3 linked regions of the Homo sapiens genome follow. The protein of the gene in region 3 interacts with the protein of the main gene of each other region in a biochemical or structural test. Each region holds a gene or a part of one and is shown on either strand. Other genes may lie near its edges.

Region 1 (3,750 bases), on a different chromosome or scaffold from region 3:
GCACGTTCTTGAGCATGCCGTCACGGGCACCTCTCGCTTGTCTCTTGTGCCTGTCAGGGAGTCAGGAGACATCGCCTTCCATCCTGACCAACCGTGTGTCCTTAAGCAAGTGCTTTAATATCTCTAGGCTTCAGTTTCCCTACCTGATAAATGTGGCTACAAGCCCCGTCCTGTTGATAAGATGATGGATGACTAGGGGTGGGTTCCCTACATTCTGACTGGTGCCTAAGTGAGACAGTGGATGGTTTACGTGATTCTTGGTGGCTGGGATTCTTGGGGGCCCAGGGCACTCCTATGCTCAGCACTTCTGTAAAATGGGTGATGGCGAGTGGCCTTGGCCTCAGGGGCCCCAGCCTTTGCAGATCTGCTTTCATGACCAGGCAGCTGGCTCCAGGTCAGAAGCAGGGCACTATTGGCCCAGAGACCCTGTAAGACCCTAGAAATGATGCCTCGGCTTGACACTCCAGTAAAGACTGAGAAAGCTGATTATAAAACCAGGCCTTAGAATAAAATCAAATTCAGCAGCCACAGTCAGCTCCCTTATGGTTGTCTCTTACAGGTTTCATTGGGAGTCACCCATTTAAAGAGGAGGGGGAAGGAAAGAGTTGTGCACTGGTGTATCCATGGGGCCTTGGGTAGCTTCCCATCCCTCTCCAGGCCTCAGTTTCCTCATCTGTGAAATGGGAAAGCAATCCTGTCACTCTAAAAGCTCTCTGGGGATAGCCACATAGACGGTTCCATGGCCCTTTCCTTCCCTCTCCTCACCCTCTGTAGCAAAGATTTCTTGACTTTATAACAAAATACTAAAAGTGTTGTTGCTGTTGGCCTGGGGGCCTGTAGTTGGCCCAGGGGACAGAGCAGCTTCCCAGCCTCCTCTGCCTTCCAGCCGTGTGTGCACAGACAGTCATTCTCCTCCTCCTGTCCCCAGGTGTCCTAACCACCCCCTCTCCAAGAGCTGACTGCCAAGTCCAGTCCTTCTTCTGCTGGGCACACAGAGGCCACACTATCTTTCTGAGGGCCTGCGGAGGACTTTTCATGGGGGATGAGCCTCTAGGGGGTGAAATAAAGCACATGGCCCACGCTGGGAGACAGAGATCCCAGGATGTTGGATGTGTGGCTGCCTCTCTTGGGGAAAGGGTGGGTACCCTCCAACAACTGGACGCTCACCTGAGAAGCCTTGCCAAAGCCAGGGGCTCCCAACCCAGTGTGTGTAAGAATCCCCTGGTGGGGTGGGGGTGGGATCCCAGGGGCTTGTCCAAGAGCAGGTTTCCTGGCTGCTAACATAGGAAGGTGCCATTGAACAGGCCTGGATTCTGCATTTTCCATGAGTCCTCTAAGGCTGTGCTGAGGCAGGGGTTCCCTGACACTGTTCTTTTGAGAAACACAGGTGTGGTGACTTATTCTCCAGGCCCAAGATGGGTTGTACAAGCGCCTAGCATTTCAAAAGGAATGGAGGTGATGGAAGGTCCAGGAGCTGTCCCTTCCTCTGCCTCAGTGTGCTAAGGAGAGCTCCAGACACAGTGGCTGTCACTAACTCTTCCCCCTCCCACCCTGCCCCCAGCAGGTGCCAGGCAGGGCCCCAGGAGAAGGGGACTCAGGCCACAGCAGGCAGAGGACAGCTGAGCTTGGGATCAAATACTGACCTCCAGTCTCCAGGGCTGTGTGTGTCCAGGGGTCCGGGAGGAGTGTCATATGGCCCCTTCGAGCTCTTGGTTCTCAGCTCCGGCGACAAGCCGAGGGGCTGCCACTTTCTAAGTTCCCCGTTTGAAAACAGGAAACAGGCTGTGTGACCTGCTTCTGATCGCCCCAGCCCATTGGCTGGTGAAACATGGTATATTGAACTCAACTGCCAGCCTGCCAGCTGTACCCACCTCTTCTTCCGGGTAGCGCAGGGAAGGGCAAGGCGGTGTGGGGCCAGCCCTGTGGGATTTAGCTCAGCCTCACTTTCCCTGCCGCCTTGCAGAGGTCTGGCTGTCCTTCGAGTCCCCGTTGATCTCTGGAATTCAGGCATTAGCTCCCAGAGCCCTTTAACATTCATTATTCTACTCTATGAGCTAGGCATGATGGGGGCCGTCATGCCCCTTGAACAGATGGGAAAACCGAGGCTTGGATCACAGAGCTGGTGGGACACAGAGCCAGTGACTGACATAGAAGAGCAGTGGGGTAGAATTACAGTTCCATCTGGTGCCTTTTCTCTGAGCAAAGCTGTATCCATCACCACCAACAGAAAGTCCCAGGGAAGCGAAACCCCAGGGCAGTGTGGTGTGATTCATGCCCACCCATCTTTGTGGCCTTGAAGGCAAGAAACAGAAATCAGACAAAAAAAAAAAAAATAGAACTTTGCTGGCTCGCCCAGAAGTTTGCCATGTGTTTTTTTTTGAGCCATGATTCCCTTCCTCCCTATTAGAGGCAGTCACAGTCCTGATTCAGATGGGGGTTACTTCTTGGCTTTTCCTTAGAAATTTACCACCTATGAGATCCCCAAACAATTCAGTTTCATTTTACTCATCTGTGAATCTTATATAAATTGAACCATGCATACTGTGTGTATTCTCCAGTGCCTTGCTTCTTTCATGCAACATTTATGGGTATAAGATTCACTGATGCATTTCTGTGTAGATACTTTTTTTCATTTCCATTGTTGTGTTGCTACATTATTATTATTATTTATTTTACTTTAAGTTCTGGGATACCAGTGTAGAACCTGCAGGTTTGTTACATAGGTATATATGTGCCGTGGTGGTTTGCTGTACCTATCAACCCATCATCTAGGTTTTAAGCCCTGCATGCATTAGGTATTTGTCTTAATGCTCTCCTTCCCCCTGGCCCCCACCCCTGACAGGCCCCAGCGTGTGATGTTCCCCTCCCTGTGTCCATGTGTTCTCACTGTTCAACTCCCACTTATGAGTGAGAACATGCTGTGTTTGGTTTTCTGTTGCTTCATTATTTAAATACATCACCATTTGTCATTTTTTGTTTTGTCTTTTGATGCACACTTGGGTTGTTCCTAGGGTGGCCATCATGATCAATGCCACTGATGATATTCTTACACATTTATCCAAGTCCATGTACTTATCTGAGGTGAAATTGCTGGGTCTCAGAGTATAGATAGCTTCAACTGTGCTAGATTACGCCAAATATTTTCCACAGTGGCTGTGCCATTTTGTATTCCCACCAGCAGTATATGAGAATTCCAGGTGCTCCACCTTCTTACCTGCACTTGATATGGTCATTATTATAATTATTTTAAAGATGGGGTCTTGCTCTATCACCCAGGCTGGAGTGCAATGGTACCATCATAGCTGACTGCAACCTAGAACTCCTGGGCTCAAATGATCCTCCCACCTCAGCCTCCTGAGTGGCTAAGACTACAGTTACGTCACCATGCTTGGCTAATAAATTTTTTTTGTTTCTGGAGGGATAGACCATCATGGCCACTATGTTGCCCAGGCTGGTCTTGAACTCCTGGCCCCAAGCAATCCTCCTGCCTTGGGCTCCCAAAGTACTGAGATTACCAATGTGAGCCACTGTGTCTGGTTTGGTCAGTGTTTTTCAGTGTACCACTGCATTAATGTGCAGTGGTCTCTCATCAAGGTTTTAAGTTGCATTTCCCTAAGGACTAATGATGTTGAGCATCTTTTCATGGGCTTATTTGCCATCCTTATACCTTCTCCAATGAAGTGTCTGTTCAAGGTCATTGCTCATTATTGACTTGATTATTTTTAATGGTTTGTAGGTGTTCTTTATGTA
Region 2 (3,750 bases), on a different chromosome or scaffold from region 3:
GTAGGAAAAAACTTAGTGTTAAAATATTAAGGTGCTAAGCTTCCAGGTCTGGCTCTGGCTCTGCCTCAGATGAGCTGCACCAGATGGGGAAAGTCAGTGTGAGTACCTCTGCACCTCTATTTCCTTCGCCAGGAAATAAGGATATTGCCTGCTTTGTTCATTTTGTGTGTTATTGTGATACAAAAACAAAAATAATGAGTGTTTTAGAGCTTTTGACTTTGAAGTTTACAAAAGGGGAAAGCTCTGTACACTAGCTGTCAATATTAAAAGACTATTTGAGCTCCCCATGTCCTCGGTTTGCTTATTTCTCTCTCTCCCCTGTGAACTTCTGATATAAGAGATCTAAATCAGTAAAAAGAACTGAGAAAATGGAACCAGGGATGGGTGAAAGAAATTACTCAATCTCTGGTTCTATATAAGCACCTGCCTCCAGGGTAATAAAGTTCTGTAACCAGGTAGACAGAGGGAAAACAAAAAGGCTTTTTATTTGGAAAGCCAGAAAAACAACAACAGAGTCTGACACTATATGCAAATGTCTCTTGAGCAGCATAACACAGTCTTCAGACAGACCCCAATGGAGAAGAACAGATCTGGCATCCCTGTGAGGCAGGGATTGGTCAGCTGTGGGCTGCAGCCCCTTATGGCCAAGGCAAAGGAGGGCAGGGAACCACCTCACCTCTGCGGGAGCAACTTGTCTCCGGCCAGGTAGCCAGACTTATGCACTTCCTTATTGAAGTCGCCATACTTAGACTGGACAGCATACGAGGCCAGCAGCACAGCGGTCTCAGGCGGGCAGTAAATATCATCATTGAGAATGCCCTCTTTCACTTGCAGAAAGAACAGGCGCTGAGTGATGTCCTGAATCAATTCCTCGGACACATCCTCAGGGTAGAACTTGGCACGGAACTTAAAGAGCAGGGGGCTTTCCTTCCGCACATCCTGGGCAGTCACCTGGGAAGAGTAAGGGTTATGGACTCTCAAAAAATAGGTTTTAAGGGTAATGGAGTGGCTGTAGGGTGGGGAGAAAACACTGAAAGATCATCAATTTGCATAATCTTAGACAGCTGGGTGGCAACTCCCCTGGTAATTAAGAAAAATAATACATTACTTTCACTGGGGACTGAATCCCATGTCTGTAATCACTTTCTGTTGGGAATTTCTTCCTGAAATTACCTTAATACCGACTGATGATCAGAAATCTTCAAACCACTTTTATCTGACTATATCCAACTATCCCCAAATTCTGATAGTAGGCATAAGCTCTTCTTTTAAGCTCGTCTTATAAGTCTCCTCCAACTTCATAAATTAGCAAAGTAAGGACTAGGATATATGTCTGAGGACTGAGAACTGGCTAAACAAGAGCACAAATTAGACCATTTTTTAAAGCCTGAAATGGAATACTAGTGGCTCCACACTTGTCCAGCAAAAGACTCAACTCTTTAGGAAAACAAGACTCTACCAGCAGAAGGTGGGGTACCTACTCCCTAGACACAATCAGAGAAGCAAACTGCAGGACAGTATGGAGACTTCTAAGGACAAGGCCAGCCAGTTTGAGGATACGAAGATGGAAGGCTGCCAGGTTCCCGTGAAGATGCTGCTTGGGGTGGAGAGCTTGCATGGACTCAAACCATCCCATTTGGGGTCCAACTGAGGTAAAAGATCAAGAAAGAGGGAAACATCTATATGGGGTTCAGACATTAGTTGACTGCTGGAGAAGGTGCAGCATAAGACTGTAAGATCTTTCAGATTTTTTTTTTTCTAGTTCAAGAATCTGTGGCTCTTTTTAACAAATCCCCAGCCAAGCTCAGTAGCTCATGCCTGTAATCCCAGCACTTTGGGAGGCCGAGGCGGGCGGATCACAAGGTCAGGAGATCGAGACCATCCTGGCTAAAACGGTGAAACCCCGTCTCTACTAAAAATACAAAAAATTAGCCGGGCGTGGTGGCAGGCACCTGTAATCCCAGCTACTCGAGAGGCTGAAGCAGGAGAATGGCGTGAACCCAGGAGGCGGAGCTTGCAGTGAGCCGAGATGGCACCACTGCACTCCAGCCTGGGCGAGAGTGCGAGACTCCGTCAAAAACAAAACAAAACAAAAACAAACAAACAAAAAAAACACAAATCCCCTAAAGCCATTGAGTTTGGAGAGATGAAGGGGATACCAATCCTCTCTTGAAAAGCCACTAATGGATTTGATCCAAAACAAGTCAAAGTTCAAGCTAGTGTTCCCATTAGAAAGAAAAGAGTCTCTTCTTCTTTGAATGCTGGCCATTGTCGCTGTTAGAAGTCAAAGTAGAGACAGAGCAAGAGCTTTGCCTTGCTTGTGTCCTCGGTCCTTATTCTGATCCAAGTGGTCAACAGACCACCCAGTCACAAACACAGCCCTAGGTATCCAGGATTTGCCAACTAGCACATGGTACCCTCCCAGGAATGTTCTGGAAAAGAAAAGAATTCTAAATCCAACAGAGGAATAAGCAGTTACCTTCTTATTGAGTTTCAGCCAGGTGGAGAAACCTTTAGTGTCCTGGTACTGCAGACCAAAGAACCAAACTTCCCTCAAGCCAATAGTTTTCACCACCTAGAAGAGAAAACCAAAACAACCAACCATTGATTGAATACTTCCTCTGTGTGAGGCACAGAGGACACAAAGTTTGAAGTCAATATTATATCTGCCCTTAAAGGGTTTAAGGTGCTCAGCATCTGGCAAGAAAATATACTTGAGCAGCAATCAAGAACTGATGTCGGCATCTCTCTGCACAAAGTACTGCTGAGGCAGGAAAGGGATCTATTACTTATGAGCACTGACACATACCAAGAACCTTACATCCATCATCTCCTTTAATTTTCATAATACCCCTATGCTAGACTTACAATTAGGCCCATTTTATAGATATCAAAAATGAGGTTCAAATAAATGAAATAACTTGCCCAAGTTTCAGGTTGTGAGTGACAGAATTAGGGTTCAAACCAGGTCTGTTTGACTCCAAATCCATGCATATCCAGTGATTTCTGCCACCTCCTCCTTCCCTCTACAATGTCACACCACTTCCCACTTCCATGATGGATTAAAGGCTGAAGGTGGAGATTGTTGGATTAACTCCTGTATCTTGTTCTCTTGGGCCACTCCCATATATTGTCCTTCATCCTTAGCAACTGGGGGTAATACCCACACCCTTAAGACTGAGTTCCATTTACAATACCCCAAATAAAGAATGTTTGAGAAGATAAAACGGGGATTGTGAAGGACTCTGAAGCCATGCTGTGCCTGGGTTCTGAGAGGATTTTTTCCAACCCTGATCAGAGCCAAGTCATGATTCCTCTTACACAGGTTTAGGGTGGAAATGAGGGTAGAAATAGGGTAAGTACCTCAGTGTAGCAGCTGAGGTGCCCCCTGTTGTCCTGAGCCTCCTGGCTGAACAGTGGGCAGGAAAAGGAGGCTTGCCAAGAGAACACAGATGAGCTCTGTTCTCTAGTCCCTGACATTAGCATGTTAATAGTCTGGCCCTCAGCTCAACCCCAGCATACCCACCACTGTCGATGGCAGCAGTGAAGCTGAGCCACATCCTAATGAGGTCAGGCTGGCCTTAGGCAGTCTTTTTTATTTTGTTTTTTGGGAGAAGGATGCAAGTGGAGGGTAAGGGTAAGGTGAGAAAGAATCATAGAAATATACCTGGAGATGGAAGCAGGGAACAAGGACCCAGTTTTGCTGATGTCCTTCCCTTATGAACAAATTAATATCTCCCTTCAAAATAC
Region 3 (3,750 bases):
CAGTGAGGTTCAGGAAGGCATGAGGCCGTCAGGAGACACCTGACCTAGTTGAGGAGACAGAAGGCTGGGCTTGTGGACTTGGGTGGGAGAGGGAGGGCAGAGTAAGAAAAAGGAGGAGCTTGAAAGTTATGTCCCCCAGAAAGGCCTGCCACATATTTACCGGGTGCCATGCAGGGCATAGGGTTGAAAGCATAGATGTGGGGTCAGACAAAAAGGATGTTCAAGTCCTAGCTCTGTCCCTTACAAGCTGTATGACCTTGACACAGATGCTTGCCTCCCTGAGCTTCAGTTTTCCCATCTGTAAAATTGGGATAAGAAACAGTGCCCATCTCACAGGGCTGTTGAGACAGTGCAACAAGGGGATAGATTCAAAAGTTCCAGGCTGGTGGGCATGGTGGCTCATGCCTGTAATCCCAGGACTTTGGGAAGCCAAGGCAGGCAGATCACTTGAGCCCATGAGTTCAAGACCAGCCCGGGCAACATAGTGAGATCCCCATCTCGACACAAATAGAAAAATTAGGCCAGTCACGGTGGCTCACTCCTGTAATCCGAGGACTTTGGGAGGCCAAGGCAGGTGGATTGCTTGAGCTCAGGAGTTCCAGACCAGCCTGGGCAACATGGTGAAGCCCTGTCTCTCGTCTCTACAAAATACAAAAAATTAGCCAGGAGTGGTGGTGTGCCCCTGTAGTCCCAGCTACTCAGGAGGCGGAGATGGGAGAATTGCTTGAGCCTGGAGAGATTGAGGCTGCAGTGAGCTGTGATCATGCCACTGCACCCCAGCCTGGGTGACAAAGCAAGACCCTGCCTCAAAAATAAAATAAAAAAATTTTAAATAGAAAAATTAGCCAGGCATGATGATGCACACCTATCGTCTCAGCTACTGGGGAGGCTAATGTGGGAGGATCGCTTAAGCCTGGAAGGTTGAGACTGCAGTGAGCCGAGATTGTACCACTGCACTCCAGCCTGGGCGACAGAGTGAGACCCTGTCTCAAAACAAAACAAGAAAACAAAAGTTCCAAGCTTACAGTAGGTGCTTAATAAATGTAACACACACACACACACACACACACACACACACACACACACACACACTTTTGCCTCCCAATTTGCCTTCAGGGCAGCAGAATTTCTTTGGGGTAGAGTTCTTATCTGGGGGAAGAATCTACGGCCCAACCTTGGCCCCACTTTCCTGGAGGCAGGGACTTTAGGAAGAAGCCATTAGCCTAGAGACATATTTCATACTTATGAGCACACTCACAGCTACCAACCCCCACTTGGGCAGTTCTCTGTTCCTGGAAGGCAAAGCCCTCAGCCACTTCCTGGAAGCAGAGAAGGTGGGGGCAAAGTTGCAAGGCCTGGTCTCCCTGGTTCCCGGGTTGGGGGAGGCATCTTGGTGAGTCAGGGCCGGACTTGCAGCAGGCCGGAGGCTGGGAGAATAACACAGAAACACGGAGGGTGCTGGGGCCCAGTTCTTCAGGTAGGCTGTCACTGTTGCCCACCCTTCCCCTACAGCCATCCCCACAGCCTCCTGCACCCAGAGACAGCTGGGGTGGAGGAGAGGCTGGGGCCTGAATCCCACATTTGCCCCCACTTAGCGGCTGTGTAAACTCGGGCAGGTTGCTTCACCCTCTCTAAGCCTCAGTTTCCTCATTGTAAAACCGGCAATATTGCTTAAAAAAAATCATCATGAGAATTGAATGAGTGTATGGAAGTTCCCAGACGCTGGCTTCCAGCCGGGGGTACTTTATCTGGAGGACTCTCTTCGGCGCTGCAGGCAGATGAGCAGAGGAAATGGAGGTCTCAGACTCAGAGGGTATGGAGATGGCGGCCTCTCTACCTCCCCTGTGGGTGTTTGGGCTTTGAGAAAGCAGAGACCTCCGTACCTGTTATGATAAGACCTGGTACATTCGGAAAGCCCAGACCTCCTTTCCTGGGCCCGTCTAAAGCAACCACCTTATCCTACATGTTCCTGGTGTCAGTGCTGAAAGTCCCTCAACCCCAGAAACCCCTCACTCCCAGGCAAACTGGGGGTGGGGGGTTGTTGGTCACCCCAGCCTGGTCCCTGCCATCCCACTGGCTTTAAGACACAGCAGCCTGGAGCCAGGCCACAGCTGAGCAGGCATCAGCCCATCTAACAGAAAGAAAATCTGAGGCTCAGCCAGGCACGGTGCCTCGAGCTTGTACTCCTAGCACTTTGGGAGGCCAAGGCAGGAGGATGACTTGAAGGCAGGGGTTCAAGACCAGCCTGGGCAACATACTGAGACCCATATCTACAAAAAAATTAAAAATTAGCCAGGTATGCTGGTGATGCCTGTAGTCCCAGCTACTCGGGAGGCTGAGGCCAGAGGATGGCTTGAGCCCAGGTCAAGGCTGCAGTGAGCTATGATCGCACCACTGCACTCCAGCCTGGGTGACAGAGTAAGACCCTGTCTCTAAGAAAAAAACATATTTTTTTTAATGAAAGAAAAGAAAACCCGAGGCTCTGAGAGATCTTGTCTCAGCTGAGGCCACACAGGTAGAAGGGGGAGGAGCTGAGTTTTCTCACCGTGTATGGCAGGTAGCATAATACCTCCTTAATATTTGCTACAGTAAATGTATTATACAACAATAAAAATGACATATGTGGAAGCCCCTCCCACGGAGGGATGATTTCATCCTCTCACTATCTGGTGACCTCATTCCTCCTCACCCCTGTGTTCACTGGCTCTAACGGTGCCATCACACTGATTAGCAAGCAAGGCCCGGAGCGGCGGGATCACTCCCAGGCCCCACCTTCCACCTCTCCTCTTCCTGGAAGGCCAAAAAACAGTCCCACAGAAGTGGGGCCAGGGCAGGGCTCCGACAGAGGCGTCTCCAGTGACCACGTCCTATTTGTCTCAACACTTGCCTAACAGAGTAGGTCAGAGACTGCTCGTTTGCCTCTTTCGCCCTAAAACCAGGCTGCTTCTGGCCCAGGCCCCATCTAGACCCCATATGGGCCCCATCTAGGCTGTGTGGAGGAGCAGGCTGCAGGGGGCCCAGACTCCAGCTCCAGAGAACCCGCCGTGTGGCCGCCCTGAGCTGCTCAGGAAAGATCCTCGTGGGGCTCCACGCCGCTAGGAACCTTGCACTGAGAATCCTGAAACTGGTGGTCAGAGCGGGCAGGATCTTGGAATGCTAAAATTCAAAAGACTGAGCATCTCAGGGTTTGGGTCAAGTAGTCACCAAGAGAAGGAAAGACCCCAGATAACTGAGGCACAGGCAGCAGATCTAAGTCTGGGTAGACAGGACAGGCCCTGCCCTGCCCTGCTGTGCCCTGGGAGTCACATCAAACCAGGTCAATCCCCAGCTCTGTCCCTTAGAAGCTGTGTGACCTGGGGCAACTCACCTCACCTCTCTGAGCTGTGGGTTCCTTAGCTGGAATACAAGGACAATGGTAGCACCCGCTTTTTATGGGGTTGTTGTGGGTTGAAGAGGGCCAGGGAAATGCTGAGTCCTCCCAGAAGCCTTTCCAGATTGCCCCAGGCACGATTAGTCACCTCCCGTGTTTAAATCATTTCTGCTGTTCATTTATTTTCTAAAAATGTATTCACATTGACTCCTAAACTTCCAGAAGGCAGGAACCACAGCTGTCTTGCTGATCAGGCCACAGGCCCAGGATTCAGCCGATGGGCAGGCACACACCCCTCGCAACACTCGCCCCAGTGGCTGGCAACCACTGTGGCTGTCTGCTCTGCTGCCCCCACCAGACCACAAGTTTTTGGAGGGCAG

The links.
Region 1: the proteins of SELPLG (region 3) and SNX20 interact in a test that uses a peptide from one of them, tested with the Homo sapiens proteins (one study listed by IntAct).
Region 2: the proteins of SELPLG (region 3) and MSN form a complex in vitro, tested with the Homo sapiens proteins (one study listed by BioGRID).

What each region holds. Positions count from the first base shown.
Region 1 is NC_000016.10:50,679,547-50,683,296, forward strand, and holds the start of SNX20 (sorting nexin-20), read right to left. Parts: upstream 1,767-3,750; 5' UTR 1,644-1,766; intron 1-1,643.
Region 2 is NC_000023.11:65,726,639-65,730,388, reverse strand, and holds part of MSN (moesin), read right to left. Parts: intron 2,576-3,750; coding exon 2,480-2,575; intron 952-2,479; coding exon 677-951; intron 1-676. UniProt on the Homo sapiens protein: Ezrin-radixin-moesin (ERM) family protein that connects the actin cytoskeleton to the plasma membrane and thereby regulates the structure and function of specific domains of the cell cortex.
Region 3 is NC_000012.12:108,627,273-108,631,022, forward strand, and holds part of SELPLG (P-selectin glycoprotein ligand 1 isoform 2 precursor), read right to left. Parts: intron 1,478-3,750; exon of another isoform or gene 1,374-1,477; intron 1-1,373. UniProt on the Homo sapiens protein: A SLe(x)-type proteoglycan, which through high affinity, calcium-dependent interactions with E-, P- and L-selectins, mediates rapid rolling of leukocytes over vascular surfaces during the initial steps in inflammation.